Linked DNA regions of Homo sapiens. The protein of the gene in region 3 interacts with the protein of the main gene of each other region in a pairwise test. Each region holds a gene or a part of one and is shown on either strand. Other genes may lie near its edges. The genes, in order: DTNB, CCDC146, INSYN1 and WASHC3.

What was found.
Region 1: the proteins of INSYN1 (region 3) and DTNB interact in binary tests that used the Homo sapiens proteins (3 or more experiments, as listed by UniProt).
Region 2: the proteins of INSYN1 (region 3) and CCDC146 interact in binary tests that used the Homo sapiens proteins (3 or more experiments, as listed by UniProt).
Region 4: the proteins of INSYN1 (region 3) and WASHC3 interact in binary tests that used the Homo sapiens proteins (3 or more experiments, as listed by UniProt).

What each region holds. Positions count from the first base shown.
Region 1 is NC_000002.12:25,621,551-25,628,577, reverse strand, and holds part of DTNB (dystrobrevin beta), read left to right. Parts: intron 1-193; coding exon 194-407; intron 408-7,027.
Region 2 is NC_000007.14:77,258,609-77,265,635, forward strand, and holds part of CCDC146 (coiled-coil domain-containing protein 146), read left to right. Parts: intron 1-386; coding exon 387-460; intron 461-1,400; coding exon 1,401-1,628; intron 1,629-3,512; coding exon 3,513-3,699; intron 3,700-6,747; exon of another isoform or gene 6,748-6,855; intron 6,856-7,027. UniProt on the Homo sapiens protein: Essential for sperm flagellum biogenesis and male fertility.
Region 3 is NC_000015.10:73,750,335-73,757,663, reverse strand, and holds the start of INSYN1 (inhibitory synaptic factor 1), read left to right. Parts: upstream 1-4,312; 5' UTR 4,313-5,554; intron 5,555-5,801; exon of another isoform or gene 5,802-5,966; 5' UTR 5,967-6,533; coding exon 6,534-6,689; intron 6,690-7,329. UniProt on the Homo sapiens protein: Component of the protein machinery at the inhibitory synapses, probably acting as a scaffold. Inhibitory synapses dampen neuronal activity through postsynaptic hyperpolarization.
Region 4 is NC_000012.12:102,037,976-102,045,002, forward strand, and holds part of WASHC3 (WASH complex subunit 3), read right to left. Parts: intron 6,238-7,027; coding exon 6,130-6,237; intron 2,004-6,129; coding exon 1,893-2,003; intron 1-1,892. UniProt on the Homo sapiens protein: Acts as a component of the WASH core complex that functions as a nucleation-promoting factor (NPF) at the surface of endosomes, where it recruits and activates the Arp2/3 complex to induce actin polymerization, playing a key role in the fission of tubules that serve as transport intermediates during endosome sorting.

The DNA.
Region 1 (7,027 bases), on a different chromosome or scaffold from region 3:
TACCGCTGTGGTGGCTCCTTGATGTTGTCTGGGACTGATGTTCTTTATTTGACCACAGAATGTTTTCCTCATTGTTGGCTAAAGAGTTTCTTCTCTTTAAACTTAAGAACTAGTTGATAAATTTTAGATTCCTATTGTGAAGGGTAGTACCACACTTTAAAATTGTTGACAGTTTATTTTCTTTGTCTTTTAGTTCATCTTGTTGATATCTGGAACATGATTGAAGCCTTCCGAGACAATGGCCTTAATACACTGGACCATACCACCGAGATCAGTGTGTCCCGCCTCGAAACTGTCATCTCCTCCATCTACTATCAGTTGAACAAGCGCCTTCCTTCTACTCACCAAATTAGTGTGGAACAATCTATCAGCCTCCTCCTCAACTTTATGATTGCTGCATATGACAGGCTAGTAGTACCTTACCTTACACGCTTACTTCATTTTAAGAACACCTGTCTCTGAATCATTCTTCTTCCATACTGCCGTGCTAAGTTGCCTTGCTAAGCTGGCAACTTAGAATCATGATTAAAAGGGAAATTATTGGCTGGGCACGGTAGCTCACAGCTGTAGTCCCAGCACTTTGGGAGGCCAAGGAGGGCAAATCACAAGGTCAGGAGATGGAGACCATCCCGGCTAACACGGTGAAACCCCGTCTCTACTAAAAATACAAAAAATTAGCCGGGCGTGGTGGTGGGCGCCTGTAGTCTCAGCTACTTAGGAGGCTGAGGCAGGAGAATTGCTTGAACCCAGGAGGCAGAGGTTGCAGTGAGCAGAGATTGCACCACTGCACTCCAGCCTGGGCGACAGAGCGAGACATTGTCTTAAAAAAAAAAAAAAAAAAGGAAAATTATTCGGTGTAAGCCCCTCTAGAAACTGGTTCACAGTGACTTACTGTCCTAGAGTATGTCATATATTAAACTCTGGAATATTGTGGAGAATCACATTTGAGATGTATTGTTTGGGAAAATTATAGATACCTTAATACAGCTGTCCTCCAGCTCATGAAAAACACTAAGTTTTGAATTTGATTATGGGGCTTTCTATTTGACTTCTAAGTCTCCTCTTTCTTTTTTCTTCTATGCCTAGTTTGTTCAGAAGGCTAATCTTTACTCTGTAACATCAAATATTGGACTATAGTAACTGATTTTCTCTCTTTTTTTTTTGAGATGGAGTTTCTCTCTTGTTGCCCAGGCTGGAGTGCAATGGTGTGCAAGCTCGGCTCACCACTACCTCCACCCCCCGGGTTCAAGCGATTCTCCTGCCTCAGCCTTCCAAGTAGCTGGGATTACAGACATGCGCCACCACGCCCAGCTAATTTTGTATTTTTAGTAGAGACAGGGTTTCTCCATGTTGGTCAGGCTGGTCTCAAACTCCCGACCTCAGGTGATCCGCCCACCTTGGCTTCCCAAACTGCTGGGATTACAGGTGTGAGCCACCACACCTGGCCAAACAGATTTTCTCTTTATGTCTAGGAACCTATTTTAAATTTTTTCATTGCAGAACATAGTTTAGTAGATCTTGAAACAAAAGAAGAAAACTATTTAAATGTACTCCAATTAAAACGGAAATGATTTGCTGCACTTATATTCGTAGAGAATTGAGTTGGTATTGTAAAGAATGAAACAACAAAATTGTAAAGCACAGATTTATGATTGTGGAAGTACAGAGGTTAAATGGTGATGTTCTGTGAACCAAGAGTTCCAGTTTCTGCTATACTCTTGGCCATCTGATTTGAATGGATTGTCTCTGCTTCATTTTTTGCTGTCTGTAGACCTTCTTTGAGTTCATACATTTGTAAAATGCTATTAGTTATATCTTATAATAGGGAGGAGTCTGTGAATTAGTGGTAACACTATGGAAATGTCAAAGCCAAGTCATAATTTAAGCACTCACTAAATTCACACCATTTTTATAAGCCGTTATCAGATTAGACATTGTATCCGTTTAATAGAAAATTATTAAAGAAATTTACTTATTTTTTTGAGATGGGGTCTTGCTGTGTTTCCCAGGCTGGTCTAACTACTGGGCTCAAACAGTCTTCCCTCCCCAGCCTCTCTAGTAGCTGGCATTACAGGTGTGTACCACTGTGCCCGGCAGAAATCTGAATTTTAAAAATAAGAGTGTGTAAGTGTCATAAGTCCCAGAATTCTAATGCCATTTTTTAGTAATTTTAGTTAGTGACTCCATAGGTTAATTTTTTCCTGCTCAGGAACTGTCTTTTTGTTTCAAAACCCTTAGTAAAAATTGTTATTCTGTAATAAGTAAGCAGCACCTTATCATGACACTGACTCACTCAGTAAACCAATTCATGGGTCACACAACACAAATTAACTCAAGAAACAATATTTTTTAAAGTCAGAAATTAAAACCATCTTACTGTCTAAAAATGGTCAAGCAGAGATTAAAATCTTGGATTCCATAATCATGTCAAGTAAGTTAAATACTATGGCGCTTTAGTCTACTGGGCTGCTCTAACAAAATGCCATGAACTGGACTCTCTATAAACAACACAGATTTATTTCTTACAATTCTGGAGGCTGGGAAGTTCAAGATCAAGGTAGATTCTGTGTGTGGGGAGGGCCTCCTTTCTGGCTCCTAGACGGCACCTTTTTGTGGTATCCTCACATGACAAAGGGGCAAAGGAGTTCTCGGGAACCTCTTTTATAAGGGCACTAATCCCGTTCATGAGGACCCCCTCGTGACCTAATTATCTTCAGAAGGTCCCACCTTCTAATACCGTACCTTGGGGGTTAGGATTTCAACATGTGAATTTTGGGGAACACAGGCATTCAGGTTATAGCATATGGCTAAAGAAGGGAGAGGAAGGAAGAGGGCAGAGATGGCAAAAGGGAGAATGGGAGGACCAAACTCAGAAGCAGAAGGTACAAGGATATCCTGGGCCATATTCCGAGAAAGCTAGACACATACAGAGAGACGAGAATAAGTGGACAGTGAATCAGTTGAAGGCAGATGTGTAGAAACACACACCGAAAATAACTAGCAAAAAAAAAAAAAAAAAAAAAAAATGAGTGAGTTAAGAAGAGTAAGGGGTATAGTATGTTATTAGTGAGTTGGGTAATTTTTACTTTGATGTGTTTAAAACATAGACCATGGTATCAGAATAAATGATCACATCTTTACTAACTTTGATACCTTTATATAATAGAGCTTATTTGGCTATCTGGAAGCTTAAAATTGACCTTCTTGTGTTGGAAAAAAAGAAAGAATCTGGTTATCAGAATGTTAATTTTGAAAACCAGGGCATTTTGTCGTTAAATACTTCAAATGTTAGTCTTTTTATTGATTGGCCGCTTTATTACTTAGGCTGGAGAGTTCCTTTTATACATAGACAACCTAGTTATTTATTTTAATTGAGGCTTCCAGCCTTTGTATTTCATAATTCCATAAGGTTAAAGTTTGAAAGCAAAAATTATTTAATCTTCTCTCACCTCCAAATTTATAGTCCCTGTGTTTGGCCAGATGATTTCTGATCATTATAATAAGAGAGTATAAGACCCTACAACAACGGTCAGGAACAAATAGGATCTAAGACTTTTCCTTAAGTATTTTCTTAAGACCTAATTTTTTTTAATACTGAGAGTTCTGAATATGTTATATTTTGATAATTAAAAACATTGAAAAGCACAGAGACCAATATTCACAAAACACCTGGGTGTAGAATCTTAGTGAAAGCCACAAGGAGTTGTGAAAACACTGATAGCTGCATTTTTTTCCTCTCAGTTTCTCCGGTACAATGTTATTGGTAGTCATACAGTCTGGTGCAAAGGTACAACAAAGGTGCTTTAACCAATATAATAACGATATCCAAATTCCCAGCATGAGATAGAGGAGGTCTTCCTTACTCTTCTATAGCTGAGCCAGTTTCACACTTTAAGGTTTGTTACTTAAAAATCCCCTTTCTATTTCCAACCTTTGTGTTAGTCCAGTGTCTTTAGCTGTAAAAAGCCTACCCACATGGCCTTTTCATAACAACATGTGTATAGGCTGACAAACTGAGGGGTCCAGAGGCAGGCCAGCCCCTCATCTTGGTTGCATCAGAGCTCTGGCTTTATTTCTTTGCGCGGCTTTGCCCCCTTCTTGTATCAGCTCCATCCTTAGGCTGACTTCACAAAATCCCTGTGAGCAGCTTCTACTAAATGCCTCCTCTTTGAAGTTGAGGTTAAGGAAGAGTTGGCTTCTTTGAACACCGAGCAGAAGTACCCATCTTTTAGACACCCATGACACAGCCTCAGGAGGTCCTGACAATGTGTGCCCAAGGTGGTCAGAGCACAGCTTGCTTTTATACATTTTAGGAAGACATGAGACATCAATCAGATACGCTTAAGATTTACATTGGTTTGATCTGGAAGGGTGGGACAACTTGAAGAGGGACAGGGAGCTTCCAGGTCATAGGTAGATTTAAACATATTCTGATTGGCAGTTGGTTGAAAGAGTTATGATAAAGAGTTGTGGAGAGCTAGGTTTTATCACACAGATGAAGCCTGCAAATAGTAGGCTCTAGAGAGAATAGACTGTAGATGTTTCTTCTCAGACTTAAGGTCTGTGTTGATGTTAACACTGGAGGGTATCATGAGGCATGTCCATCCCCAGCTTCCCATCATGGCCTTAACCAGTCTTTCTGGTTAAATTTCAGAGTGCCCTGGCCCAGGAGGGAGTCCACTCAGATGGTTGCAGGGGGCCTTTGAATTTTATTTTTGGTTTACACTTACAATCTAATATCTAGATTTCCTGTGGTTCTTTTTGTACTGTTTGTTGTTTCTGGTTTTCATTAATGATGTTTTATTTCCTATTTGCTTTGTTATTTTTTATTATAGGCTGAACATTATATAGCAAAATTATTTTTATTATATACCAAACATTATATTGCAGAATTATTTGCAGGGATAATTTGAGGCCTAGGATGATGTTTTCTTCAAGAAAGGATGTGTGTTTGCTTCTTCCAGGTGCCTGGAGACCTTAACAATCCAGGATCACGTCAATTCAGTTTCTTAATCAGTACATGTGAGGACCTGTTTACTTCTGGACACGATTACCTTTAGGTGAAGCCTTTGGGCTCTGAGCCCAAACTAATAGGAGAGTAGGGTAAGCAGGACCACGTGTCCTGCCAAGGGACCCCTTCTGCCTTGGCAAGTCCAAGCCTCCATGTCTTTCTCCTTGTCCCCAGTACCATCAAAAAGTTACTCTATACTTCAGCAATTTTGCTTCCCCCTCTGGAATCAAATCACTTACATGGAAAAAGTGATTTCATCCATTGCACTCACCTCCCTGGACATCCAGCCTCTCCTGCATTTGGTAACTTCAGTTGTTAGTTCTCAACAATTTATATTCAAGGAGATTTTTTAAAACTTTCCCCATCTTTTCTTTTTTGCTCAGAGGAAGAGTTGATCAGAATCACCTAGGGTGCTATTACCAGAAGCTCATTATTTCTTCAAATATTTCCTCTGTTTTTGTTTTCTCGTTTTCTGATTGTTGGCATTTCTACTTCTTTCCTCTTTATCTATTAGTGTTCCTCACATATGGTTTAATTTCTTTAACTTTGTTTCCTTTTGGAAGAGTTTATTGATCTGCCTTTCTGCTCATTAATTTGTTCTTCCTCTGGAGCCATCCTACTGTTTATTCCATCTGTTATTTCTTTAGCTATTATATTTTCTATATGTAATATATCTGATTTTTCTTTTTTGGGATTTGTGGTTCTTGTTTCGTATTGTCTTTTTAAACATGTTTATTCTTAGTTTTAAATTCTTGGTCCATTTGTTCTAGGACTTATGCTTCCAAACCTGGTGTATGTTGTTCTGTTTTGTTTTGTTTTTCTAAGTAGTTGTATCCCTGTGTCTAAGGACTAGCCAAGGAGTGGATGTTTGCTGAGAATGTGGGCAGAACTTGGACATGTGGGCTAGAGTGTTCACATGCATGCATAGTCCTTTCAAGCATGGGATGTGCTGGAGGTGGGAAGAAAAGGGGATCAGGTTCTTCCCACGTAGGAGTATGGGGTGCCTTACAGTTCTAAATTTGAACATGACATTTCTGGCCATTATAAAGGTATGTTAGTCAAGGTACAAAGATGGAAATAAATACATATATTTATTTATTTTTCTGTCGTCCAGGCTCTAGTGCAGTGGCACAATCTTGGCTCACTGCAACCTCCACCTCCTGGATTCAAGCGATTCTCATGCCTCATCCTCCTATTTGGGACTACAGGCATACGCCACCACGCCTGGCTAATTTTTATATGTTCAGTAGAGACGGGGTTTTGCCATGTTGGCTAGGCTGGTCTCAAACTCCTGGCCTCAAGTGATCCACCCGACTTGGCCTCCCAAAGTGCTGGGATTGAATACAGCCATAAGCCACTGCACCCGGCCAGATTGCTCTTATACTTTATTTCTGACTGTTGAATCTTATTTTTTCCTCTGATATATTTCATCCATTTATGTTTTACAAATGAGTCTGTGGCCTTTACCAAAAGTGTTGGTTCAGAAATAGAATGAAATTTCACCTTAAAAATGGAATAAACTGGTAAAAAAAAAAAATGATGTATCTAATGAAACTAGTTTGGACAAAGTCTGTAAAATACATCTAAATCTTAAAAAATACAAAATACGGTATTGAACACATCATTTAAAGGCCTAGGGTTATTGTTTACCATCTACAATAACACTCAGTAGAAAACATTCTTGCTAATTTGAACAATCGAAAGATTCCTTTGGTGTAAAGATACTTATATAATTTATAATAGAGTTATATGAAAAAATTCCTGTGTAGTTTGCAAATGTGGCTAACAACCATTTAAAAATGTTGGTTTAGGCTGGGTGCAGTGGCTCATGCCTGTAATCCCAGCACTTTGGGAGGCTGAGACAGGCGGATCACCTGAGGTCGGGAGTTCAAGACCAGCCTGACTAACATGGAGAAACCCCATCTCTACTAAAAAAAAAAAAAAAAAAAAAAAAAAATTAGCCAGGCATGGTGGTGGTGCATGCCTGTAATCCTAGGGAGGCTGAGGCAGGAGAAT
Region 2 (7,027 bases), on a different chromosome or scaffold from region 3:
CCTGAGAATGTAGGCTAGGCTAAGCTATGATTTCAGTAGGTTAGGTGTATTAAATGCATTTTCAACTTAAGGTAGTTTCAACTTACAACGGGTTTATTGGGACGTCACTCCATTGTATGTGGAGGAGCATCTGTACCTCCATAAAGGGAATCTGGGCAGAGGACCAACAGTATTTGCTACACTCAGTTACCTCCTCTTCAAAATGATAACAAATATAGCTCTCTTACAAGGTCACCGTGAGTATTAAATGGGATAATTAAAGCACACAGGGCAGATGGTAAGTATCTACATATTGTAGTTCCTTTCTCTCTCATATTTAATTTTCTTGTCTTAATTGCTTCTAGCCGAAGACCGCATAATTTAACATGATTTCGTTTCTTTACTAGGATGAAGTGGCCCACCATCAAACCATTCCAGTACAAATTGGAAAAGAGATAGAAAAAATAACACGCAAAAAAGTGTATGATTTAATATTTTTACTTTGAATCCCTGCCAGTCCAAGTTATGTGTGCACACTAGAACAAGAGTACTAACCATTGGACACATTAAATTACTATGATAATTTTAGAAATTTCTGCTTTGGGCCCTGTCTAGGTTGTTTATATCAAGTTCTTTAAAAGAAAGTAATGCACCAAATTTCTATCATTCATAGTATTTATGGCTTAATTATGGGTCAAGATTCTGTTGCCAATTTATAAATCATATTTTTATGGAGAAGTTCAATTGACTTTAACAGAGCGGTGCATGGGATAAATTATGCGAACTGGTTAGAATTTCATAGTCTAGAAGTATATCAGCCAGGCAGCAGCCCAAAGCCCAAATAATAGTAACTCCCCACTTTGCCACCCATTCATGTGTATAACACTCCTCAGATATTCAGAGTAGATTGGGAGGCAGAGGTCATTGAGGAAATTCTCAGTGTTTAAGGAACCAAAAAAGATAAAGATTTTAAGTGAAGATACAAAAATTCTGGAAAAATAATATAATTACTCTGGTGACTAATCTTAAGGGGAAAAATTAGGCAGGCACTAGTAACTGTTCTAAAAACTAAGCTCACCAACATCAAAGTTGAGAAACTCAGGTCAGTTTCAGGAGGCTGGTCAGGACGAGGGTTGAATCACAGGAGATGGTAGCAAATTGGGATCTGCACAGAAAGTAGGGAGGCTGGGCAAATTCCTGCCTTCCGTGGCACTCAGTGGAGATACCCTCCAAGTCCCACCCATCTGTGGTCTTTACCCACTGCTGAGATCATTGAATTTATGACTATCTCTTCTGCTGCATGGTTAGAAAGCAAGAATAGGTAAAGCCAGCATGGCCTCAAAATAAGGCAAGTGTGTGTGTGTGTGTGTGTGTGTGTGTGTGTGTGTGTGTGTGTGTGTGTGTGTGTGTATCCCCTACAGAGAAATGGAAAAGAAAAAAATTGTCTTGGAACAAGAAGTCAAAACGCTAAATGACTCCCTAAAGAAAGTTGAAAACAAGGTTAGTGCTATAGTGGATGAGAAGGAAAATGTAATAAAGGAAGTTGAAGGCAAACGAGCCTTACTTGAAATCAAAGAACGAGAACATAACCAATTGGTCAAGCTATTGGAATTAGCCAGAGAGAATGAAGCAACTTCATTAACTGAAAGGTTAGTTATATTTATGTATGTTATGTTCTGTCATCTAAATTTTTCTTCAATTTATATTTGAGAATTCAAAATCTCACTTTGGTGTTGAGTTAATAAATATTTAAAAATAATTTTAAATCAACTTTTACCCTTAATATATTATCAAATAAAGCACTTTGAAGTATTTTTTGATACTTTACTCAAATTTTCTCAATTTTCTGTTACCAGATTTTCAGGATATAATCTGTTGTATGTTGTAAGTTTCTGAATGTGCCTTTGGAAAATTTATCACTGGAGTATGTTATGTTCAGGGATTTTGCCAACAAATGAATGATACTTCTTAGGCCATCTTGACTTTTTTCTAACAGAAGCAATTTCGTGGTGTAATTCCCTAGGAGAGTTTTATGTCCTGCTTTTTTGTTTGTTTTTTGAGATGGAGTCTTGCTCTGTCGCCAGGCTGGAGTGCAGTGGCACGATCTTGGCTCACTGCAACCTCTGCCTCCCGGGTTCAAGTGATTCTCCTGCCTCAGCCTCCCGAGTAGTTGGGACTACATGTGCGCACCACCACGCCCGGCTAATTTTTTTTTTTCTTCTCATTAGAGACAGGGTATCACCATGTTGGCCAGGTGGTCTCGATCTCTTGACCTCGTGATCCACCCGCTTTGGCCTCCCAAAGTGCTGGGATTACAGGCATGAGCCACCGCGCCCAGCCTATGTCCTGCTTTTAAGTAAAATTTCAAGGAAACTGGAGGCTTCTATCTCTGCCAGTCTGTTATTTTTTTGGGGGGTGGGGGTTATAAGACTGCAGTTCTAAATGATACCAACTCACAAACCTAGTTGCCTTTGGCATTATTTACAATTTATGATTCCAACATGAGAATAGTCATGTGTGTATATACTGAGCATGCTGTCTTTTATTAAACTTTTAAGTTCAAGGTTACACATACAGGTTTGTTATAGGTAAACTTGTGTCATGGGGGGTTGTTGTACAGATTATTTTGTTATCCAAGTATTAAGCCTAGTACCTATTATTTTTCCTGATTCTCTCCCTCCTCCCATCCTCTACCCTCCAAAAGGCTCCAGTGTGTGTTGTTCTTCTCTATGTGTCCATGTATCCTCATCATTTTGCTCCCACTTATAAGTGAGAACATGTGATATTTGGTTTTCTGTCCCTGCATTGGTTTGCTAAGGATAATGACCTCCAGCTCCACCCACGTTCCTGCAAAGGATATGATCTCATTCTTTTTATTTTATTTTTTATTTTTTATTTTTTGAGACGGAGTCTCGCTCTGTCGCCCAGGCCGGACTGCGGACTGCAGTGGCGCAATCTCGGCTCACTGCAAGCTCCGCTTCCCGGGTTCACGCCATTCTCCTGCCTCAGCCTCCCGAGTAGCTGGGACTACAGGCGCCCGCCACCGCGCCCGGCTAATTTTTTGTATTTTTAGTAGAGACGGGGTTTCACCGTGTTAGCCAGGATGGTCTCGATCTCCTGACCTCATGATCCACCCACCTCGGCCTCCCAAAGTGCTGGGATTACAGGCGTGAGCCACCGCGCCCAGCCCTCATTCTTTTTTATGGCTGCATAATAGTCTGTGGCATATGTACCACATTTTCTTTATCTGGTCTACCATTGATGGGCATTTAGGTTGGTTCTATGTCTTTGCTATTGTGAATAGCACTGTGATGAGCAAATGTGTGCATGTGTCTTTAGGATATAACAGTTTATATTCCTTTGAGTATATACCCAGTAATAGGATTGCTGGGTCAAACGGTAGTTCTGTTTTTAGGTCTTTGCCAGAAGAGATTGGGAGCCAATATTCAGCATGCTGTCTTGATAAGTTTTGAAAAACATTTAGGACAGCTGATAACAAAATCATTTTCTTCTTCTTCCTTTACCTGGAACAGAGGGATCTTGGATCTCAATTTACGCAACAGTCTCATTGACAAGCAGAACTACCATGATGAACTTTCTCGTAAGCAAAGAGAGAAAGAACGAGATTTTCGAAATTTAAGAAAGATGGAACTGCTCTTGAAAGTGTCCTGGGATGCACTTAGGCAAACTCAAGCACTGCATCAAAGGCTTCTATTAGAGGTGAGGGCTGTAAACTACCATCTGATTTTTAAGCTCGGTGCTAACTTTTGAAGTAAAAATATTTTAGGAAGTTGTTTTTGCTGCCAGTAGAGAAGAAGAAAATACAAGTAACAGAGAAAAGGTAATTTTCAAATGCGTCAAGCCTATTATGAAATCTATAGTCCTATAATGTTTCGTAATCTCATTTTTCTAACCCAAGATTAGAGAAATGTCTTGTTTGGATCAGTCATCCTTCAGCCTGACCTGGGGAAATGACTGGACTATCCAGTTCTAGAAGAGCTAGAGGGTTCACTGCAGAATGGGGCCAAGTGGATCATTATTTTCACCAGTTGAAGGAGTCAGATCCGGCATGGTGTCATGGCAGACTATAACAGTGAAGGACTAGATCAAATTACATAGACATAAATGATCAGCAGCCTGCACTTCCGACTAGCCAAGGGCAATCCAGAACCCAATATCAGGCTGCCTGGCTAATTCTGTGCAGGGTCAGAGGTGTACTCCAGTCAGAAGATGCTCAAGACAACTGTTACCTGCCTCTGTGTTCCCAAGTGAGGGGTCTGGTTGCCCCTGGCTCTCTTTTCTCTCAGAGGGCACTCCCTGTGGTAAATGACCAAGCGCCACTGAAAGGGCAGAGGATCCTTGAGAGGGCTTCAGCCTTGTGCTAGAGCCTTCCTTGAGCGAAAAAGGGGTCAGCCTCTGAGATGAAGCAGCTAGGTGTATAGAAACCTTCCCCGTTCTCTTCAGGACTGTCATGCTCCAGAACCTTATGGAGGGTCATGACCTAAGAAATTTGAACAGGAGTTTCCAGCTGTGGTAGACACCTCTGATCCTAACCTATGCCTAGTTCTCCTCTCCTCCTGGGCACATAGAAAGTTTATACTTCCTTGCACCCTTTGCAGTTGAGCAGAGTCATATAACTCATTCTGGCCAGAGGATTGTAGACAAAAGTGACACGTGTCACTTCCAGCCTATAACATCTAATTGCCAATGTGAGACCCTCTAGCTGTTTTTCCCTCTCCTGTGGTAATTGTGGAAGTGCATGACACCATGGAGGTGCTGTAAAATGGGAGCAGCCGGGAATGCTGAGCCAACAGTGGTCTCAGAGTCCTCTTGATTGCCCACCGGCTTTGTAGGAAACAGCTTTGGTAGTTCGAAGCCATGATATTTGGAGGTCGTTTATTTCTGTAGCATAACTTAGCCTGTCCTGACTGAAAGACCAACCTTAAGCAACATGTGTGAAAAAATCGGTTAGGGTTATGAGTGTTACGAACAACTAGGACTTGGACTTCGTCTTGCTGTCAGATGGCACTTATAATCTTTTCAAGAAGTTCTCTGGTTGGGCACAGTGGCTGCTGCCTGTAATCCCAGCACTTTGGGAGGCCGAGGTCGGCAGATCACCTGAGGTCAGAAGTTCAAGACCAGCCTGGCCAACATGGTGAAACCCTGTCTCTACTAAAAATACAAAAATTGGTCGGGTGTGCTGGTGCACACCCATGATCCCAGCTACTTGGGAGGCTGAGGCAGGAGAATCGCTTGAACCCGGGAGGCGGAGGTTGCAGTGAGCTGAGGTTGTGCCACTGCACTCCAGCCTGGGCAACAGAGCCAGACTCCATCTCAAACAAAAAAAGGAAGTTTTCTATCTCAGTGAGGCAAAATGTACTTTTATAGTCTTTTGCAAAACCAATAAAACATGTATGTTCTACTATATATGTGTTTTCACAAATAACTTTTATATAACTGTTATATATAGTATATTTATGATATATATACTTCTTATTTAATCATTTTATTGCAATTCCAACAGGTAGATTTATTTGTATCACTCTGAAATCTCTTTAACTCTAGTAGTACTTTTTGCCTTAAAATATTATTTTGTCTGATTTTAGAATAATAACATCAGTTACACTATCTTTTGGCGTGTTAGATTCTGCATGGTATTATTTACTTTGATTTTTTTTTCTTTTTCTTTTTGGAGACAGTCTTGCTTTGCTGCCCAGGCTGAAGTGCAGGCACCATCTCAGCTCACTGCAATCTCCACCTCCCGGGTTTAAGCAATTCTCGTACTTCAGCCTCCCAAGAAGCTGGGATTACAGGCATGTGCCACCAATACACAGCTAATTTTTGTATTTTTAGTAGAGACAGGCTTTCACTATGTTCGCCAGGCTGGTCTCAAACTCCTGACCTCAAGTGATCCATCTGCCTCGGCCTCCCCAAAGTGCTGGGATTACAGGTGCGAGCCACCGCACCCAGCCCTATTTACCGTCACTCTTTCTGTGTCCTCATTTTGGTGTGTCTCATATACACAGCACATACTTTTCAAAATCTAGTCTGATAAGTTCTGCCTTTTTAAATTCTTGTATTTAGTCTAAAAATTAATACTTAATGTAATTGTGGATATATTTGTCCTTATTCTGTGATATTACTTTTGCTTTCTCTGTATCCCATCCGCTTCATGTTCCATTTTCTCTCCCACATTTCCTTCCTTGGGATTAATCAACGTTTCATATAGTTCTGCTATCCTTGTTTTAGATATGCATCAGTTAGTTTTACATTCTATTTCTATTCTTTGGGTGGTTACCCTGAAGATTACAACAGTCATCTTTGACTTACTAGAGTCAAATATAAGTTATTTGTATTTTTACTACTTCCAAGACAGTGCTAATACCTTTGATGATTTTAACTTTACTAACCTTTGCAACTCTTATGCCCTCAAACATATTTTCACTCCAACTTTCCAAGTTATTCTTGTTGGAAGCATTGGTTTACTATAAGCTACTCCATCTTAGCCCGAAGCACAGCACGTTAGGATGTTAAATTGGAACTTTGGGCAAACACAGACCCTGTGGCCACCCCTCCTCAGTCATAGTAAGATTTATAGTAGACCGCAGTTATAATGTCCATTCAAAGTACTGACGGAAACCTCAGTGTAATGAGTAAGACTCTTAAAACCAGCAAGTGTTGCTTGTACTAATAAAACAATTCCTGTTTATTGATCAAATAACTGTTCAGTAAGATTTCTTTAAACAATGGGATAAAATGTATAATTACCTTTAATAACCAATTTTGGTAGTTATGGTAGTAAGTAAAGTTAATCCATTCAATATGCTTCTAATGCTGAATCATCAAAGCATTCTTAATATTGAAGAGTAAGGTAACCTAAATAGAAGCAATAATTTGTCTCATAAATTAATACTTCTTAGCTCAAGAAGGGTTATACATTGGTAAAAATCACAAGATTGGTTCTAAAAGACTACACACAAAAAAACAGACTTAGGTTCACTTCTACCAGAAAATCTAGATTAAGTACCATAGAAGGGACACATAAACC
Region 3 (7,329 bases):
ACAGGGCAGCAGGTCCCAACCCTCTGGCTTCAGGATTTGGAGACATCTTACCCCATCTGGGAACCCAATTACTCAGTCAATCATTTAGTCAGCTCATTTAGTATTTCCTGAGTGCATCTGTCAGGCTCCAGTTGGTTACACGAGACAGAGACCCCACCAAACGAACTGGAGCAATATGAGGAATTTATCAGCTCTTAGAGATGAGTAGGATGTTGTTGCAGCTCTCCAGACTGAAAGAAGAACTGCAGGAGTGAAGGCCATGAGAACAAAAACTGGGACTCAATGCTGCTAGCATGCTCTCTAAATTCCTCTCCTCTCTGCTGCCTTGCTCAGCTTCCTAGATTGAGTGGGAAAAATGGCTTGTCAGCAGGTTTGGACCATAACATCCAGTTTTGCACCCCACTAGGAAGAGGGGTTCTTCCTCCCAGCATCCACATATCAATCCCAGGGAAAGAATCTGATTGGTCCTGCTTAGGTTATGTGCCCACCCCTTGGACCAATCACTGTTGCTGGAGGATGGGGTTCCACGGTTGGTGCAGTCTGAGTCACATGCCTAGTTAGTGGCAGTGGGATAGGGATGGGTGGGAGTAGTGGGCACTTTAACTGACAACCCACTAGGATTATGTGATGACAGCAGGGAGTTTCCCCAAGAAAAGGAATGCTAGAACTGGATGGTGGAAAACAGGCAGACAGGTAAAAATCGCTGTCTACTGTCTACTGCAGTGGTCCATGTGAGAGATGGGCAGACACACACAAGCCCATCATGAGGAGTTCACAGACTCACATGGAAATAAGGCTTACAGACATGAAGCCATGAATAAGAGCTGATAGCAGCTACCATTTACAGAGCACCTACCAGGTGCCAGGCACTGGGCCAAGTACTTCCATGTGCATTATCTTATTCCATGTTCACAGTGACCCTGGAAAGTAGTCATTATTGTCCTGATTTTTCTGAATCAGAGAGACAGTGAAATACATCCCCCCCCCTTTTTTTTTTTACAAGAGACCCAATTCAAGAAAGAATTAAAATGTTTATAGGCTGCTATCCTTGCTCAGAGAGGTTAAGTGACTTGCTCAAGGTCACACAGCTAGCACATTAAATGAATGCCCTGGGAAGCATTTGGTTAAGGGCAAAAAAAAGTGCTTCCATTTCTCTCCGTAGACTAAAGCACTAGGGAAGGCTGCCTAGAGGGTGGAGGTTGGCGGTGAATAAGCAGAGATCTAAAGGATGGGACATCTAGGCAGGTGGCCAGGGAGGTTGGGTGGAAGAAAGGATGGATCAATCCCCAAACACTAAGGAAGGCAGGTCTGAGCACCACCCAGATACTATCTATTCCCTCTCGCCTGTGGCAGCTCTTTGGAGATTTACAATCAGAGACCCCTTCTCCTGAGTCTCCTCTTCTCTAGCCTGCTCTGACCAGCCCTACCATCCTTCATAGAACATATACACCAGTCACCTCCCCTATTCTACTTGGCTGTCCTCCTATGGACACACCCAATGAATTGAGGTGCTAGGCACAGTTTGATCCACACAAATGACAGAAGAAATGTTACCTCCCTTTTTCAAAACACTGTGCTTCTATTAATGAGACCCGAGATCAATTATGTATTAAGCAGTCACAGTCCACCCTGTCCAATCAAGCTCACTGTCTCCTAACCTTGCCAGTTCAAACACATCTCCCTCATCCTGGATGAGGGCGGATGATTCCCTGGACCTAAGACTAGAAACTCTTTTTTTTCAGGCTTAGCCCATTTTTGGTCTCGGCTGTTCCTTAGCATCACTGCTTCCACAAAAGTGATTGGTGAGACTGTGTGATTCCACTTATATGAGGCACCTAGAGTAGTCAGAGTCACAGAGACAGAAGATAGAATGGTGGTTGCCAGGGGCTGGCGGGGGGAGGGGTGATGGAAAGTCACTGTGAGATGGAATAAGATAATGCATGTGGAAGTACTTGGCCCAGTGCCTGGTGCCTGGTAGGTGCTCCACAGAGAGTGGCTGCTATCAGCTCTTAATCACAGAGTTTCAGTTTGGGATGATGAAAAGGTTCTGGAGATGGGTGGTGGTGATGGTTACACAACAATGTGAATGTACTTAGTGCCACTGAACTATGCACTTACGAATGGTTAAGATGGTAGATTTTAGGCCGGGCGCAGTGGCTCACGCCTGTAATCCCAGCACTTTGGGAGGCCGAGACAGGCGGGTCACGAGGTCAGGAGATGGAGACCATCCTGGCTAACACGGTGAAACCCCGTCTCTACTAAAAACACAAAAAAATTAGCCGGGCGTGGTGGTGGGTGCCTGTAGTCCCAGCTACTTGGGAGGCTGAGGCAGGAAAATGGCATGAACCTGGGAGGCGGAGCTTGCAGTAAGCCGAGATCGCGCCACTGCACTCCAGCCTGGGTGACAGAGCGAGACTCTGTCTCAAAAAAAAAAAAAAAAAAAAGGTAGATTTTATGTTACGCATATTTTGCTACAATTTTTTAAGTGATTGGTGGGCCCTCTGGATCCACCCCATCAGAAGAACATCTCCCCAACCCAGGGCAGCTGGATTCCCACCCTCACAGCTTCTGGTTCTCCAAAGGCAACCCCTGAGCTGAATCTCAAGGAAGTAGGAGTCAGTTCCCCCAGCAGCCCCCTGTGAATACATCTCTGAGATAACTCAGAGACCAAGGAACATCATTAGCACCCACAGTACCATCACTGTCTCTGGAATTCAAGTCCCCCATGGGCCAGCCTAAAACCACCACCTAGCCCCACCTCCCTTGACCCCTCCTCTGCCTCTAGTTCAAGATCTCTGCTTCCCCGCCACTTAAACTTTTGAAAATGTCATCTGTACTCACTCCTGTTCCTCACTGTTGGGCACATAGTCCTCGATGCCCAACAGTTTGGTTCCTGTCACCTTCTACCCTCCAAAACCAATTGCCCCTGCCATGTCACCCGTGGCCTCCTGAGTACCAAGACAAATAGACACTTTCTGTTCCTTCTCTCACAGCCACTCCCTGCCGCGTTCGACACTGATGAGCACTTGCTTCTCCCAAACTCCTCCTACTGGGCCTACATAACTCTCCACTTTCTGGTTCTTCTCCTATCTTTCTAATCACTCCTCCCTCTCACTCATGGACTCTTTTCTGAGGTTCCAGCCCAGAACTACTGCTTTTGTTACTTCTACGCAGCGTCCCTGTTCATCTCACCCCTCTAATGATGGTTCAAAAAAAAAAACAAACAAAATGTTACTCTCAAGCCCCAGCCTCTCTCATGAGCATAGATTCATAGACTCCACTGTCTTCTGGCCAACGGTGAAATAGCCTCCTAACTGCTCTATCTCGGTGGCACCTCCTCACACCCACTCACAATGCCCCAGAGGGGTTTCCTGAGAAGGCAAGCAGGCCCAGGTTCCTCCCAATATCAAAGCTCCCTCCGCCCCGGGATAAAATCTAAGCTCCTAACCATGGTCTCTGAGTCTCTCTGTGGTCTGCAGTCAAAATGGTATCTAAAAGGCCCCAGTTAACTTAAACTCCCCTCCTCCCATTTCTGCTTCTGAGCCTGTGCTCCCACCCTCCTCCCTGCCTGGAATGCTGATCCCCAACCCCCCACACTGACAGTCACTCCTACTCCTCCTTTGAGATTCAGCTCAGGGGTGGCCTACCTGGCAGAACCCGCCAGGCCCTGGCCTGAACTGCACCACCCAACCCACACTTCCCTACTCCCCTGTTAACATTGCTTCCAGAATTTGCCTCTGTTGTGACTCAGGAGTGTCCCCGAGCCGTGAGCTTCCTGAAATGCTCTGGTGGCCCCGGAGCCTAGCATGGAACCTGATGCACAGAAGGCCTCTAATACATGAGTCAATTGTTGAATAGCTGAAGGAAACGATGGGTGTCCAAGACAGCCTCCAACCCCCAGCCCTGCCGACCCAGAGCTTGGCACACAGTAGGTTCTCAGGAAAGGTTGGCAGTATTCTATTTTCTGAATGAATGTGATTTCAGGCAAGGTCAGGGGCTGGGTTATGTGGGTGGTAGAAGGGAGGGTCTGGATGCGGGAAACGTGGCCAAAAGGGAAGCTTGGGGGCAGTGCAGTAGGGGAAGGGGGCAATGGGGGTGTCTGGAGAGGTGGGAAAGGAACGAAGTCCCCAGAACGCTGTCCCTCCGCGCCCCAGGTCAGCCGGCGTGGGGTCCGGTCAGTCCGCCTCCAGCCCCGCCAGCGAGACCCTTCCCCCTCGCCCGGGTGGCGAGACCCCCCTGGCTCGCACGCTTGGCCCTCGGGGTTGGGAGGCGTGTGTGTCGCTTTAAAAGCTCCCTCCCGGCGCGGCGGGCCGGCCCCTTCCCTGACAGCGCCGAGGCAAGCGGAGCCAAGCGAGCCGGGCGGCCTTTAAGGGAGCCAGCGCCCGCCCGGGCGGCCAGTCCGGCGGGGGGCGGCGGGGCGGGCCGGGGGCGGCCGGGGCGCGGGCGGCGCGGCGCCGCGGCGCTTGGGGAGCGGGCCCAGGCCCCGGGAGCCCGGCGGGGCAGGGCAGGGCGAGGCGGTGAAGGGAGGCCCAGCCCCGACCCGGCGCCTGTTTGCCCCACCGGCGGCGACCCGGCGCCCGGGGGCTGCTGAGGCGGGGAGCCGAGAGCGAACGGACGGGAGGTAGCGGAGCCGAGCGGAGGCTGCGAGCCTAGTGCGCCCCGGCCCGGCCCGGCCCGCCGCTCGCCCCCTCCCCTCCCTTCCCCTCGCCGCGCCTCCTCCCCTCGCCTCTTCTCGCCTCCTCTCCTCTCCTCCGCCCGGCGCTGCTCCCGCCTGCGCCCGGGCCGCCGAACCCAGCCCGGCCGGGGCCCCCGGCTTCGCGCGCTCTCGGCTGGGCCCGGCGGGGACCGGGTCCCCGCGGCTGACATCGCCCCTCCTCGGGGACCCGGTGGATTCCGGACCTTTCGGAACGTGAACTGAGCCGTGGGAGCGGTCTCGCCCAGGGCCGACCGCGGGGCTGGGCTGAGCAGACCCTCGCGGCCGCTCCGGACGCCGCGGGTGCCGGGGCACGGACGTTCTGGGTCCGGGCTGAGCGCGTCCCGGGCGCCCGGCGGTGCCAGCTCACTCCGGGCGGGGTAGGGCAGGGCAGACCCCAGCGGAACACGGACCCGGCCGATCTGGACTGGACAGAGCGAATCCCGGACGGTGCAGAGCCCGGGGAATGCCGGGCGTGGGCTGAGGGGATCCCGGCGCCCTCCCAGCCCTCCGACTTTGGCTCACGCGCTGGGACCTGCCCGGCGTCTCCTCGGCCTCCCCGCGCCCCGGTCACCTGTGGCCTCGGAGCCCCAAATCTGCCGGACCCTCGCTCATTCCCGACCCCGAGCCTGGAGAGGCTTGAGAAAGATTTTTCCTGCCCCCTTCCCTGGAGCGCGGAGGCCCCGCCCCCTCCCACCGCCCAGATGTCTCCGGTCACGGCTCGGAGGACCTCCCTGAGGCCCGGGGCCGAAGGGTCCAGAGAGAGAAGCCCGCCCTAGGGAGCCTTGGGGGCCCCCCAACTCCGTCTTGGGGCTTGGCCCCCGACGCTGCTTGGAGGGAAGGCCGGTGCCCCCACCCTCGGTGAGTCCAGGAGTGGGGGTTCTGAGGGAAGGCGGGGCTGGGGGAGGGAGGGTCCGCTGGGAACGAGGGCACCCTGGGGGCGCTAGGAGGGAGGATGGGTGACTGGAGAGGCCCTCTGGTGAACCAGCCTGGGCAGGCCTGGCTGGGGGGAAGGTGGGGGGGGAGGGCGGGAGCTACGGCCAGGGTGCCCCGTAGCAGGCTGAGGACTTCTGCTTCTAAAGCAGGGGCTCCCTCCCTTTCCCTCTAGAGGAGGGGCTGTGCTGTAAACCGTCTGCCTCCACCACCCCTCCCCACAAAGAAAAAAAAATCCCCAGCGAGGAAGGGTGCAGGCTGGCGAGAGGAGGGAGGCAGCGGCATTGCCGGCTGGTGCTGCAGCCTGGGAGGGCTGACGCCAGGCTCGCTCTCTCCGCAGGGGGCTGCCCTCTTCCAATCCAGCTCCCTCCCCAGAGCTGCCCATATCCGGAGCCCCTTCCACATCTGGAAGACCCTGGCCACCATCCCTCTGCAGGTGTCAGTTGCATCCAGAGACCTCTGCCTTTGCAACTGCCTAGGAGTTGTGAGGGGATCCCTGCTGCCTTCCCCCATCCCAAGGGCATCTCTTACCCTTAGTCCCTGCAGAGTCATCCCCCTGCCTCTGTGTTCAAGCTCAGGCAGAGATCAGCTCTGCACACCCACAGGCACTTCAAGACCTGGAGGCCACTCCTGGGACCCAAGGTCCCTCCCCCTCCTCTCCTGTGTCCTCACCTTGACCCCCTCTGCTAGACTCTGTCTCCCTCTGGGTGTCCCACTCTCCACCCAGAGGCAGAGGAGGCTGGGTGGCAGGGGGCAGGGGCTGGTTGAGGGCCGCCCAGGGCCAGGGTGGGCTGGGGGGCCGTTAAAATGTGGAGCTCTGCCCAGCCGAGGGGGGCTCCGTGGAGGCAGACGCAGTGTGTGCCCAGCTGGGGGGAGTATGGGCAGGCCTGCGGCCACGTGGTAAACGATGAACATTCGGGGCGCCCCGGACCTCGGGCAGCCCAGTGACGACCCCAGCAGTGGTGGTGAGCGGGAGCGGATTCGACAGCGCATGAAGATGGTCATCGGGCAGCTTGAGGGCATCCTTCGCGAGCTCAAGGAGGTGGCCAAGGAGCTGAGGGAGGTAAGTGAGGGGTGAGGAGGGACCAGACAGACCCTAAGCCAACCTTCTTGGGTTTGGCACAAAAACGTACTCATAAATACGTTGGAGTGTGCAAAGCTGCGTGCACATGTGTCACTCTACTGGGGACCTTCTTTCTCCTTGCTCTCCTTTCCGCAAATCTGCTTTGCTAAAAATCTCATCAGACCCCAAGGCTGGAGGGGCCTCGGTGTTGTAGAGGTTACTTGAGCAGCATGTCAGTGGGCCTGGAGCTCTGGGTTAGCACAAAGGGCTGCCAAGATGGCCAGTAAGGACTGAATCCCGCCACAGCTTCTTAGTGGAAGACAACCTTCTGGGACCCAAGCTGACCCTTGAACCCACCATCTGTCTCCCAGACTCTGATCTGGTCACAAGGGACCCTGGGAGAGTGCAGATAGTTGTGCTGAGGTGGTTTCCACTGCTTGAGGCCCAGCTCAAAGCATATCCCTAGAAATCACACAGATACTGAGAACCCTTGATCTTGGAAAAATTTAAGCCAGCTATGTCCTCTTTGTCCGGGGGTAAGAATGGGTCTGGGGGTGCTGTAGTGGATAACAGAGTTCCTTGCATATTTTGGCAGGGGCAGGAGTCTTCCCTAAGGGGATGCGAGTCTCCATCCCACTGT
Region 4 (7,027 bases), on a different chromosome or scaffold from region 3:
GTAGAGACAAGGTTTCTCCATGTTGGTCAGGTTGGTCTCAAACTCCCGACCTCAAGTGATCCGCCCGCCTCGGCCTCCCAAAGTGCTGGGATTACAGGAGTGAGCCACCATGCCCGGCCCGGGTCATTTATTTTATATGTATATTTATGACTGAAAAGCAATTGAACTTGTTGACGTAATTAGTAACAAAAATAAAAATTGCAAGTGGTATCTGGAAACCTTAGTTGGCTAAATAAATCTAGATAATACCTAATACAGTAGCTTAGCTTCAAGTAAGTGTTTGATAAATATTTGTGAAATAAACAGATGGTGGATTTAAAAAGAAAAAGATTTTTTGAAGTTCTTATAAAATTGAAGACAATTATCAAGAATTTAACAGTTATCCTAAGATGCAGCCTTCATAAAGATTTCAGGGCATTTTTACAGAGTATCACCTAGTAGATTTTCCTGTTTGTTATTTTATATAGGTTTGGCAAGAAGGGGCTAACATAAAAAATCTTTCTGAGTCATTTAGAAGCATCTCCCTTTTGTTTAAAAGAGTGAAATAGTTTTTGTTGTTGTTGTTGTTGTTGTTGTTTTTTAACAAGTCTATCTTTTAAGCTTAGGCTTTCCTGGGTTCTAGCTTTAAAAACGTGTTCATCATGATTCATACTTAAACTGGCTTTGTTTTATTCTTGTTAATTAAAAAAACTTCATCTATTTTCATCCCAAAGTCTGGTTTATTTTTTTCTAAATTGACCGCCAATATCCTGAGCTCTAGGCTTCAGAAAAAAAGAACTGTGGAAGTGAAAAATCCACTTCTGATAGCTAGGAAAAGTGCAGCTTCCAAATGAGCCAATCTACTCTTTCTGGTTGTCAGAATTTGCTTTTAAATTACTAGGTGATAAACTATCCCATGGACAGCAAAACAAAACTGTCCTTTAGTATTAGTATTGTGCTTCTTTTGCTTGATAATATAATTTTACAAAAGCATTATTATTATTATTATTATTTTTTGAGACAGGGTCTTGCTCTGTCACCTACGCTGAAGTACAGTGGCACAATCAGTGAGGTGAGCCACTGCACCCTTGAACTCTTGGGCTCAAGCAATCCTCCCACCTCAGCCTCTTGAGTAGCTGGCACTACCAGGTGCATGCCATCATATGGAGTTAGGTTTTTTTTTTTTTTTTTTTTTTTAATGTAGAAGTAGGTGGTCTTGCTTTGTTGCCCAGGCTGGTCTCAAACTCCTGTCTTCAAGTCATCCTCCCACCTCAGCCTCCCAAAGTGCTAGGATTAGAGGTGTGTGTCACTGCGCCAGGCTTTAACTGTTTGATTAACAGAAAAATGATGGACAACTACCTCTTTCAACTACTGAAATACTTTCTAAAGGAATAAAAAAATGTTAGCTTCTGCTATCACAGACAACTGCAGATATTTTTGGTACCACAGCATGTTATGATTTCTCAGGAAAAATATGAATTCTGAAGTCATATAATATTAAAAGCATTACACATGGCCAAGAGATCATTGATAAACATAAAAATTTTTAAAAAATATTATTTGTGCTAATAATATGGGGATTAAGCTAGAGTCAACTGATTTACCAAATGAATAGTCTACTTTCATTACTTTCTGTATCTAAGATTTGCATTGATAACTTTGTGTAATGCAAAAAAATGTACATAAATCTATATTAAACTATGTTAATTTAAAGTGTGGGATCAATTCTAAAGATTTGACTTCCTTTTTTTTTTTTAATCAGAGAATTAAAATAGAAAGGAAGTAAGAGAATAGAAAACTTGGTTACTTGGTTTAGCAGTTTTCTCAGATTGAAAAAAATAACAGTAAAACCTCCAGGGTTAAGAATTTCAAGTGAGGCTGCTACACAAAGAAGACAGACCAAGTTAGCTTACCACTTGAACCATTTTGAGATATCTGGCATATCTTGGATCCTTGGCTACAGTTAAGATATTTTCTGCTGATACTTCACTTTCCTGTAGTCCAGAGTCTTGTGTACTGTTCTGCTGTAGAGAGTATTTGGTGTAAATCTTTAGACAATTTACAAAAGGGGTCTATCATGTTACTTAAAAGGAATGTTTCTTTCCATAATTCTAAGGCAGTAAATTGCAGAAAAAAATCATCTCCCCCAATTTAAATACCAATAATTTAATATGAGATATGTTTCCAAATATCTACAAATATTTAAATATCATTTCAGAGAAGGTTACATTTCAACACTATATTGGTTCCTTAAAATGCAAGTATATTCATGCATTAAAATAAAAATTCTGCTTTACTTGTCCCCAGAGTGCTGATACAAAGCATGAATTATATATAGGTGGTGATACTATTTTAACAAAACTTTTAAGAAAGCTAATAAAACTATCAACTGTTTACAAATTAATAATAAATTTATTGAGATAATGATGAATTGATTTCCTAGGTATCTAGAATCTACCTAATTGAGCCCTTTATTTATTAAATCATTTTATTCTAAGTGGACATGGCTCTTCTAACTTTTAGAAAGCAATTTTTGGAGAAGTTGTAAAAGAGAAGCCAGTTTGTCAGACAAAATTATCTGGTTTTATACATTTCAGATACTGATGGAACTATTAATGGTAACATTGTCTACAGAGTGGTTAAAAGTCATAATGTCATACTAAATATGACTTACAATAAAGAATACTGGGGAATGGTCTTTTTAGATAAAAATGCTATTGTTATACAGGCAGTCTTCATTTTGCATGGTACCATGTTACTGAAACTTGTGCATATGAGAACCATATCCTTGCTTAAATGCAAAACTAGATAGAACTGCCTGTATACAGTACTTGATTTTTCTATCAAACCAAACATTTAGAAAAAGCTTACTTTGGTGAATCTCTCTCATTATCTGTATATAAGCATTAAAAGAATTTCCTTAGAAGAAATCAATTTTATGTCTATTGTTCATTCTGAAATGTAGATAAATCAATATCTTTATATCTTCATAGTCTTTAGACTATGAATGTGAATTACATATTGAAGTTTTTCCTCAGATAATTCAAATATAAATTAAATCTGTCAAAAACTACAAAGCAAATAAACATCCAAAAATCCTTTAGGTTTCTTCTGTTACATGATATTGCTAAGTTTTACCAAAGTGAGTATATATATATACATATATATACACACACACACACACATATTCATCTATAATACAAATACAAAAATTCCAAAACACTGTTAATTAAATAAAAAATTAAAACAATAACCAAGTATGTTTTTTAACAATTTATGGAAATTAAACTCATATAATAGCAAAATGGTGCAAATGAACTACATCCTGGCCAGATATCAATTCTCAGTCGTTAACTTTTGCCTAATAACCAAGACCTCAACAAGGTTTAATTATGAAATGTATTACACCTTTGCTATTTGAATGACCCATTAAATCCTCTATCATATCTCTCAACTGTCCTTCATTTATTCTCAAATCAATCTCACTCTGCACAATTGGATATTCTATTGTGAATAATGATGAAATCTGAACCATGAAATTAAAGTTGCAGAAAAATCAGTACACAAACCTTGGGTCTTTGACTCATGTATAGATTAGAGAGAGTGATAAACAGATGATTTTTTTAAAAAGTGCATTATTCTCCTTTGTCTGATAAGTGAGTTGACTATAATGTCAATGAAAACTCTGGATTAAGCAATACTTAAGCCCACTTCAAAATATTTTGTATAAAATATACCAATTAATAACAATGAATAAATGAGAAGTTGATGTGAATATTAAGAACATGCTGAGCAGTTATTTTATTAAGCTAATCAACACACAATTTTATCACAGTATTTCAAACTTTGGAAGCCAACAGAACTTCATAAACCCTCTAAATAAATACATATACAATTTTTAAATAAAATTGCCAGAGATATACCAGGTTATTCTGAATTTGCAAAGCAAATTAAGAAATTCAGCTGTGATTACTGGTAATCAATTTTTGGGACATTAAATATGTGAGGACAAACACAACTGCATAAGAATTTTAAAGGGCATATTATAGATGGCATTCATAATAGCACCTGGAAAAATTAATAATCAAAGTTAGACAGGTATACTTAAAAATCTTACAGAAATATATGACAGCTCTATCTACCACATAATAACTACTAGGTAGTGTGGAAATATTTTCTTAATATTCTTTATAGACGCTTTATTTTAGAAAGAGGATAGTCATATTTAATTGAGAGAATGTAAAGTTAAACTCCTCTACAACATCTGGATATCCTCTTGCACATTTTATATATTTGAGTGGCCATAATGAAATTTGCTATATTAAATAAATGGATGTTAAATTTTATAATATCTAATTAAGTAAATGATCATCTAATTTATTACCCAAATATATACTATATTCTAAATATATGGCTCTTTCTACAGGGCCTCATACCACGCATCCTCAATATGTTTAAATAAATTGAATACAGGTACTGAAAACAGTGTAGTGTAGTGTAGTATAGTGTAGTGAAGCAGGTAAGTGCTAGGGCTCTTGGCACCAGACTGTCTGGGTTAAAATTCTAGCTCTTACGTTACTTTTCGACCTTCAGCAAGTTACTTAACCTCTATATACCTCATTTGACCCATCTATAAACTAAGATTGATAATATGGTGCTTACATTATAGGGCTGTTGTAAAGATTAAATTAGTTTATGAAAGGCACTTAGAAACGTGCATGCCTTGGTACACAGAAAGCACTCTTGAAGTGTTAGCTGTTATCATCACTGTCAACATCATCGTGATCTAAAAAATATCCTGTGAAAAGTGCCTCCAGGTACAAAGGCAGAATTCCATTTATAAATCTGTTTGTTTTATTTGTTTATTATTATTACTTTGGTAGGCCACCATTTTGATGATTACTTTGTTTTAGATTTTAATACCTCGCTGAGATACACTAGAGATTGTTCTCAAACAACAAAGAATTTTTATTTTTTGAAATAAAAAGTAATAGAAAATTTAAATTCATACAGAAGCATAAGTAAATGTTAAGATCTAAGAGCCAAATGTAAAGTATAGCTTTTACTGGGATGCTGATTCAAACGAATCATCTTCAAAAACACACTGGTATTTCTAAGATCAGTAGCTCTCAAATTTTAAGAGCCTACAGATCACCTAGGGGTCTTGTTAAAATGTAGATTCTCATCAGCAGTTTTGGGGTGGAGCCTGAGATGCTTCATTCTAACAAGCTGCCAGGTGATGCCCATGTGGTTGGTCCATGGCGTGTACTTGAGTAACAAGGGGTTAGACAATACCAGAGAATGTTTTATTTATTTATTTATTTTTTATTTTTGAGGCAGGGACTTGCGCTGTCACCTAGGCTGGAGTGCAGTAGTGTAATCTCGGTTCACTGCAACCTCTGCCTCGTGGGCTCAAGTGATCCTCCCACCTCAGCCTCCCGAGTAGTGAGACCACAGGTGCGTGCCACCACACCTGGCTAATTTTTGTATTTTTAGTGGAGATAGGGTTTTACCATGTTGCCCAGGCTGATCTCGAACTCCTGAGCTCAAGCAATCCACCTGCCTCAGCCTCCCAAAGTGTTGGGATTACAGGCCTGAGTGACTGCACCTGGCCAATTATTGTTAATTACACTGTATATGATAAAGGCATTTATATAAGCAAATGTTACAAAAGAAAATGTCAAAACTTTTCAGAGATGCTCAAAAATTTATGCAGGGTGAGATGACAAGATGTCTGGAATTAATTTCAGCAAGTGACCAAAAAAATAGATGAAGCAATTGTGAAAACTGGTGAATCCAGGTCTATTTTTGTGTATGTTTAAAAATTTTACAATAAAATATTTTAAAAGTACATTTCTTCTAAGAACCTAGAAAAATTTCTAATTATTTTGAAGAAAATAATTATTTGAAGCTTTTTCCTAGTCCTATATAGACTGATTTTCTTTTTTACAGGCAAAGAAAGTATTAACTTCAGGAAGCCCTTCAAAATAACACAGCTAATTTGTTTTTCCCAAACTTCATTTTCTATGTTAAGGTTTTAAAATTTTACTATTAGAAGTTTTACATGTTTATTTTTCTTCCTTCCAACCTGCTGCTTAACACTATCAGTTTCAACCAAGAACATCTGCTCGTTTCTTAGAACTCACTTACCTGTGGTTGCTCTGAAGTGGCTTCAGGATGTGCTCCATTTGTGACACTGGTGACATTTAAAGGAGATACTTCAACTGTGACATCATCTAGGCCTGGGATAGATGACAACTGAGAAAAGAAAATTAGTATTGGAATATGAAGATAGTACTTGCATAAATAAACACTATTTTTAATAGCTGTCTTAAGTTTTAAGGCTATACAAATAGGTTCACAATATCTTGTCTTTAATTTTCCATGTCATAAACTAAAAGTGAAAGACGGTCACAAATTCTTTTGAAGAACTTCTCAAAAATCTAATTTAGTTTACATAACCATCATTTTCAAAATATAGACAATCCTAGTGTAAGGACTGAGAGCCTGGTCTTTGAAGTCAGACTGTCAGGTTTAACTTTTAGCTCTACCACTCACAAGCTGTGTGATCTTGTGTAAAACTCCCTGTGTCTCAATTATCTCACCTGTAAAGTGGAGATAAGAACATGTACCTAGAAAAGTTGTTGTAAAAATATTTCTATTGATAATACTTCGAAAAAAAAGGGCTTTGTGCAAATTTTGAGTTTCAATTATCTAGGATATGACAAAACTCTTGTCTTTACACTTTAATGTGTGACACAGCTCATTCTTTTTTCTTTCTTTGAACATTCACCACTGAATGTTATTAAAATATGTTTCTTCTATGCAAAAAAATGGGCATATTGTTGGTATTTCAACCTGAAATGGTTTAGCTTTCACTATGAAATAGTTAAGCATTTCAGGTTAGATCTGCGAGACCCATACAAACCTTCTTTTCTGAGTTCATCCTGATATCAATGACACGCATTTGTCGATGTTTGGCTAACTTTGGGGATGACTCTATGGCCATGGAAATAACTAAGGTTAACTTGTCCATATGGTCATTTAA